Linked DNA regions of Homo sapiens. The protein of the gene in region 1 interacts with the protein of each later gene in a pairwise test. Each region holds a gene or a part of one and is shown in the gene's direction. Other genes may lie near its edges.

Region 1 (3,749 bases):
TCAAGTTGGCCAGCTGAAGATTTTATTTTGAGCAACATGTTCCAAGAAGCAGCTGGAGTGGGGCTTTCTCATCATTTTCCAGTAAATGTGCTATGTCAACATTGATTCAGTGACCACTGATCAGAAGAGGATGCCAGCTTTCCTGCCCAGAGGCAGACAATGCCATCTCCATTACAGGGCCACATTCAAGCCTAAGACATCTGCTTGGGGGTATAGAGGGGACAAGGGAGGGATGCGTATTTCAAATGAAAGCAGCTCAGCAAGGATGCAGAGGCAACATTTGTAACTGTGAATCATTAAATATGATGTTTTCTTCCAGGTATATAGATGCCATTTTAGTAATTACCTGAATTTTTAAATGATAGATTGGTGGCTTAAGAAATTAGTATATACTCAGCCACTTGCATACGTCTTAGAATTATAAGCCAAATTCTAAATGATTTTTAAAAGGAAGAAAATGAATGTTTATTAGGCTATGCAATTCGGTTAATATTCATCAAGATGCAGTTAGACTAGAAAGACTTTGTTATAAGTCACAATAAATCAAAACTGTACCGAGGTACTCTATATTGTCAAGTATGTTTCTAATCCATATGTGTGTGTGTGTGTGTGTTCTGTAAGAAGATCCCTGACACCCCATACTATCATTTCTTTCTTTTGCTTAATATCTGCCCATCTCATTTTTATGCTTTCTTCTTCCTATAGTCCAATTTCCAGAACTGTTTGCCCTGGTTTTATATTTTTGAAGAGTGATATAATTGTCCAAATTTATATTCACATGATCATATAAGAATCAACATAAGAAATGCAATAAAGGATAAAACTATAAAAGATGCCTTGACGATAATTAATATAAAGTTTAGGAACATTTCCTCTTATTACTAAATGCTTTTTCATATTTAATCATTCAAAAATTTATTATTTTAACCCTGGGACTTTGAGGCAGAAGATTTAAATTAAAATATCTTCTCTACTTCTACTGCAACTACCAACTATGAGTGTAGGCACTTCTGTTTCTTCTACTGCTCATCTTATAAAGGTTACTTTGGGACTCATATGAGATTATAAGTACAAAAGCAGTTTACAAACTATAAAGAGTCCTATAAATAGAAGGTGTTATTGATAAACTATTGTTATTTTCTAGAATGGAATTGAATATTAGGCAGCTATGCCTTGGAGTCCAGCCATGGAGGTGCTTTCTAAACTTCTGAGTTTTATATTTTGAAGATGATTTTATCTGCCAGAGTCCAGTCCAGAAAACAAAATCCACTACAGGGAGCTCAGTAGAGCGACTTTCTAAGGGAAGCTAGCTATAAAGTATAAGGAAGAACAGAAAAGCCAACCAGGGGTGGTGAGACCACCCAAGGATCGAAGCTATTACCAGGCTTAGGGCTGGAAGGAAAAAAAAAGGTGCTGCTCCTAGGCCCCTGGCTGGGGGAACTAGGACCACAAAGGAGATGTACCCAACTCTAGAGATGCAGCCCCAAACACGGAGAGTAGAGAAGGACATACCCTGGCTTCTCTCTCCTTCCCCCCCTCCAGACTCATGCCAGGCCTCCTTCACCCAAACCCAGTCTGAACACAGAGGGCAAATGAGCTTGGGAAATGAAGGAATCAGTTCAGATTGAGCTGGAGATACAAAGGAGCTGAGAGCAAGCAGGGGCATTCCCAATATCTTAGTGCAAGCAACAACCTGTCTGTATTAAACAAAATATAGAAGCTTAAGGCTTCTTCAGGAAGAACACTTTCCAGGTAAATAGGACAGCTGGCCTAGGCGGCCCTCTTTCTGTTTATCTCTTTATTCAATCTTTCCCTTAAGGGGTTCTCTCTTTTATATGATTGATCCACCATGATGCCTGCTTCCACTGTAGCACACCCATTCAAACACGGCCCAGTCCGCCCATTGGTTCCCAGTGCCACATCTGAGATAGGCTAGGAGTTTCTGAAAGAAAGAGGTAAATGAAAAATACTGAGAATTAAAGAACTTACATCTATTCCTTTAATAAAACAGTTGCTCTCAGATTTTAGGGTCCCTGTTCTGTGTGCTTTCCTGTGGTATGCAAACTTCAGCCCAAAGGACTGGGACAAACTGCCGAGGTCTGTTCTTTCTTCATTTCTGCCCTTTCTGCGCTTCAATAGCTACCCCTCACCCTACGCTACCCTCAAGAAATTTTGACACTTTATGTCAAACCAAGAAACAGAATTTATCCTAATCTGCTGGCCACCTCCATTTTTCCTTCTCAGAATGTAACATCTGGCAGCAATAAGTTTTTGTCCTTAATTGCGATCCTACCATTCACATGAACGGCTATGGTTTGACTCTCCCTGGGCCATCAGCAGCATCATATCTTAATTCAATATTACAGTTACTCAACTTATATAATTAATGCACACACACAATTTAAATCGTCAAACTCTGATTTTAGTTCACTTATATTTAACAACTCCCAGTTTGCCAGTGAAAACTTCTTTTTCAGTGGATTCTGATGGCAGCCAAGCTCCTTCGTCTGGGGTGCCATCCCTCCCTACTCCCCCACCACACCCACTTAGCGGTTGTCTGAGCTTGAATCCAGTTCTGTAGTGGAGACGGCACTGTCTCCCTCTGGGGGCAGAAAGCTGGCACTGTCTTTCGTAATATTGAAACAAATATTATATTAATGCGATGAGTGTGTCAATCTTCTTTTGGTTAGAATGATTTTCCACAGTGAATAATACAACTCAGTGAGAGAAAAATAAATGAAACATTTGTTTGAAGAAGTTAATGAAATAGAATGTTCTAGTGGGTGAAGTTTTGTTTCTTGTTTCCTTTCAGACATTTCAACCACAGACTGAGAAAACTAAGCAAAGCTGTGTGGAAGAGCAGAGGGTAAACAGAATTCATCTTTTCAAATAACTCTATTTCAGCTCTATAAAGAAAAAGTCAGTAAGAGAAAAGTGTAACTGTCAAAATAGTCTTGGGCACTTTGAATGGAAGTGAAAAAATATACAACATAATGTTGGCACTTTCTAGTCAATCAGGTATTGTAACTCACACACCATGTGTGACAGAAAAGAGGAAAACATTGTGAATAGAGATTTATTTCTCCCCAGTATGATTTCTTCCTTCAAATGAAACAATGCTTTGCCAGGCAACCTTCATGGGGCTAAGTGAGTAAGAATTTGGGAACATTGCTACTAGCAAACAATATTTTCCCACACATGTACCTGACAAACACTTTGCTCTCAGAATGATAAATAAGGGAGTAAAGGGGAAGGTGGCTATCAGATCTGAATGGGGAATTCTATGTCCGTGGAGTCAGCTTTCCATATGCATCCAGTTAAATGAATCCTCCCCGCTTTGCATGCCACCAAATTGCAGCTTGCTTCTGCCTATCACAGAAAATTATGTTCTAAGAACTAACAATCTTCTGTACTTCATCTCAGCTGAAAATTACAAAGGCCAACGTTGCCAGCTTAAGAGCCTGAATGTTCATGCTGTGAGTTTTGCCAATTAGACATCAGACATGAATATTGTAAATCCTGTCTTTCTCCTGGTCCTCTCACCCCCTCCCACCTGAAAATATTTCCACATGCTCCATTTCCATAGACGTTTGGTAATAAAATCGATCCACCCTAGGACAGAAAGCAGTTGACAGGCCCTTAGGGAAAACAGATTTAGAGTTATGTAGAAAAGAGAAGGAACAAGTTGCTGTCTTCGGGAGCCGGCTGACACACACCCTCCTGTGGTTATAAGAAGTACTACCATTTGT
Region 2 (3,749 bases), on another chromosome or scaffold:
GCCTTTGACCCTCTAATCCCTCCCATGTCTTTTGTTTTTTGAGACAGGGTCCCTCTCTGTCACCCTGACTGGAGTGCAGTGGTGTGATCATGGCTCACTGCAACCTCAGGCTCCTGCTCAAGTGATCCTCCCACCCCAGTCTCCAGAGTAGCTGAGCCCACAGGCATCCACCACCATGCCCAGCTAATTTTTGCATTTTTTATAGAGACAGGGTTTCACTATGTTGCTCAGGCTGGTTTTGAACTGCTGGCCTTAAGCAGTCTGCCCACCTCAGCCTCCCAAAGTGCTGGGATTACAGGCATGAGCCACCATGCCCTGCCCCTCCCATGTCTTTGAAATGCTTTCCTGGAAGAATGTTTCACTTTGTTGACTTTCCCTAGCATATGTCCCCTAAGCCTGTGTCTCTCACTGGGACTTTTGTCCTGAATTCTGAACCTGCCCCTCCTGTGTTTCCGTCTGCCTCAGCTATTCTATCTCCAAGTAACAAAGGCTAGAGCAGAGTTGTGTTTCAGGAGTGGACTGGGAGTAACGAGGGCTGGAGAGGGCAGGGTTAGAGAGGAAAGTGACGGTGGCCTGGTGACCTGTGAGGGGAATGCTGAGTGTGTGAGTGCCTAGTCATTGGGCAGCTTTGCAGCATGGGACTAGGAAACCTACCCCACTAGGCCTTCTCCACAGTCCAGGATACAGAAGTGCCTGGCAGCTGTGGTGGCGGCCCCTCTGGGGAGCACACCCATGTGCCCTATTCTCTGGGCCCTGGTGCGGTTGTCGCTCCTCACCGGGCCTGGCTGATGGCATCCTAGCTGGCCCTAGAGTTACTTCTGCTGCTCAGTCCGTGGAGGCTGTGTGTGTCACCAACTGGGTCCTCACGTCTCCTGTGTGACCAGCAGCACCACAGCAGAGCACCGGCTTTGGGGCGCAGCTGTGTCACAGCTGCCGCGTTGGCAAGGGACAGGCCTCCATGCCTCGCACAGAGTTTGGTGAGGGGTTGGGCTCAGGGCAGTTCTGTGGCCTTTGCTTTCTTGTGATCCTATTTAGAAGTGGTCATGAAGCCCCTCCTTGGGATCTTGGACACTGATCTTTCACAGTTTACAGCAGTTGCCGTTCAGCTTTATATTTAAATAAATTGCCCTTCTGGCTTTAGTAGTGTCTTGAGGACACGGAATGTGCGTGCCACCTGATTCATGTTGGAGGGTGTCACCTTTGCTCACAGAGGCCCACATGACCAGGCCCCTTTTCTCTGAGGGCTCTGTGAGACTACATCACTTAGGCCTCTCCCCTGTTTGGCCGTTCCCTCTCATGGCACACTTCCCCTTTCCTGACCTGGCCAATTGAGAAGTCTGCAGAGGCCCAGTGTTATACTAGATGCACTTTCCTTAAACTCTAGTGGGATGTGAGACCCTCTTCTGTAGCAACCTATGTATCCCAGGATTGAATTTCCTGTGTGACAATGACTTATTTGTGTGTCATCCCCCTGCCAGCTGTCAGGGGTAGAAGACCAGGTGTCACCCTTTCGTCTAGTGAAAAACAGGCACTCGAGAACACCCAGTTACCGTGGGATTATGTCACGCCCTCAATGGGTTGTTTCAGTCCCCCTAATGGTGGTCCTGGGAGTGGGTTCCTCACTGCTTTGTCACTGATGAAACCAAGATAGAAAGGACTTGCCAGGGTCACACCTGCAAGAAGGGCTGGGGCTGGGCTTTGAACTGTGGTGATCATGACTGTTTTGCCAGATGCTCTGCTATCTAATGTTTATTTAGTGATTGTGTTAATATCTGGCCCTTGTACATGTCTGGTCTCTGGTAGTAAATGTTTATAGAATTAGTAAAGTGCTAAGTAAGAAATTTATTAATAAGTGGGTATCATTTGCACTGAGATTATTCATGATCTCTTCACAGGGAGCTGAGTCCTCAAGAGAGTCAAGGGAATTTTTAGGAAGTTTTGAAAAACTGACATAGTTTTCCATTTTTAATTTCTCCAAAGGATCACTACCATTTTCTTTCAAAATGCTTCATTGGTACTAAGGGATATTTATTGAAGAAGTGATACTATATTGATACTTTTTTTAATCTTTAAAGTAATATGACAACTAAAGAGGATACATTCTGAATTTGATTTTCTTTTTGTCTAGAATAGACTTCTTTTGTAGATTTGCATTATTAAAAATATAAAATATAATAGACATTCTGGCCAGGTGTTCACAGCCTGCAGGTATGAGCTTGGGAACAGTAACAGCTGGCATGGGAGAAATAGGATCAGAGAACCGAGAGCAGCTTTTCCTCTGGGCCAGGTGCTGGCACAGTCAGGAAGCTGCTGGGGACAGTCCTATGGAAAGCGTGACATCAAGTCCTTATTTGGCTCTTTTGCCCAAATTAATTATGCTCCCATTTTACTGTTTGCTTGATGCTTGAAGCATCCTGTGATTTGGTGTAATTGGCATGTACTTGTATACAAACCCTAAACTTGCCTATGCATTAAAATTTTTTGGAAGTCATTATTCCCCCAAAAGTATGCTGATTATTTAAATTACGTAGTTGAATAACAAATAATCAAATATTTAAAGAGTATTATGACCAGAAATTAAGACTCCAGATGAAGAAGGGCCTGTTAGAATCATGACATGCTGCAGGCGTGGTGGCTCATACCTGTAATCCCAGCACTTTGGGAGGCCCAGGCGGGCCGATCACGAGGTCAGGAGATCGAGACCATCCTGGCTAATGCGGTGAAACCCCGTCTCTACTAAAAACACAAAAAAATTAGCCGGGCATAGTGGCGGGTGCCTGTAGTCCCAGTTACTCGGGGAGCTGAGGCAAGAGAACGGGGTGAACCCGGGAGGCGGAGCTTGCAGTGAGCCGAGATCGCGCCACTGCACTCCAGCCTGGGCGACAGAGCGAGACTCCCTCTCAAAAAAAATAATAATAATAATAATTACATGCTGCATCAGGGCTGGGCACTGTGCTGGGGGCTGAGGGGACAGTGGTGGTCAGATGGCTCTCCACCCTCAGGAGGCTTGCAGTCCTGCTGGGGAAATGTGAGGCTGGAGATGCAGTGGTAGGGGAGGCTGTGGGAGGGAAAGCCCATCAGGAAAAGCTCCGTCTAGGGGGCCCCCAGCATGCCTGGAAGTCTTGTGCATCTGCCTAGAGCTGAAGCTTTGGGTCTGTCCTGGCTTTGCCAGGCAGCCAGTTTTATTTCCTTTGTTCACCCCTATATGGCTCCAGTCGGTTTTGGGGTGGCAGCTAGTTGTGGAGTGGAGCACAGAGTTTGGCAAACATGAGCTGACAAGCTGATTCGGAAAATATCCTCAGAGCACAGGCCAGCTAGCAACTGGCAGCTGAGTGGAAAGGTTCAGTCCTCTCGGGCAGCTCCGGTGGCACCTAGAGGGGAGAGGGTGCAGGCTTTGAAGCCAGAAAGACATGGATGCAAGTCTTACTTTGCTTCTTGCTGTTACCAGTTGGCCTGACCTTAGGAAATGTTATTTAATCTCTCTCCAGTTGTTTCCCCTGGAGAAAGCCCTGTCAGCCTGAGGATCCAAGACGCGTACGTAAAGTGTCTGATTTCAGCCAGTGTCCCTTCCTGTCCCTTCCTGGGGTGTGTGTCGGTTGCCCTGAGCGACCGGCCATGGGACTCTGTCGTGATAACCAAGCTTCAGGGTGTGGGAAGAGGACAGTCAGTGCTTCCTTGGGGCATCACTCGGTAACATCATGGGCATAAACAAAAGTACTCAGTCTTCAAGGTCATAAAGTAACCAGAGT

What was found. The genes of interacting proteins can lie anywhere in the genome.
Region 2: the proteins of MEPE (region 1) and ZXDC interact in binary tests that used the Homo sapiens proteins (3 or more experiments, as listed by UniProt).

The regions. Positions count from the first base shown.
Region 1 is NC_000004.12:87,835,820-87,839,568, forward strand, and holds part of MEPE (matrix extracellular phosphoglycoprotein isoform a precursor), read left to right. Parts: intron 1-2,812; coding exon 2,813-2,866; intron 2,867-3,749. UniProt on the Homo sapiens protein: Promotes renal phosphate excretion and inhibits intestinal phosphate absorption. Promotes bone mineralization by osteoblasts and cartilage mineralization by chondrocytes.
Region 2 is NC_000003.12:126,462,240-126,465,988, reverse strand, and holds part of ZXDC (zinc finger protein ZXDC), read left to right. Parts: intron 1-3,749. UniProt on the Homo sapiens protein: Cooperates with CIITA to promote transcription of MHC class I and MHC class II genes.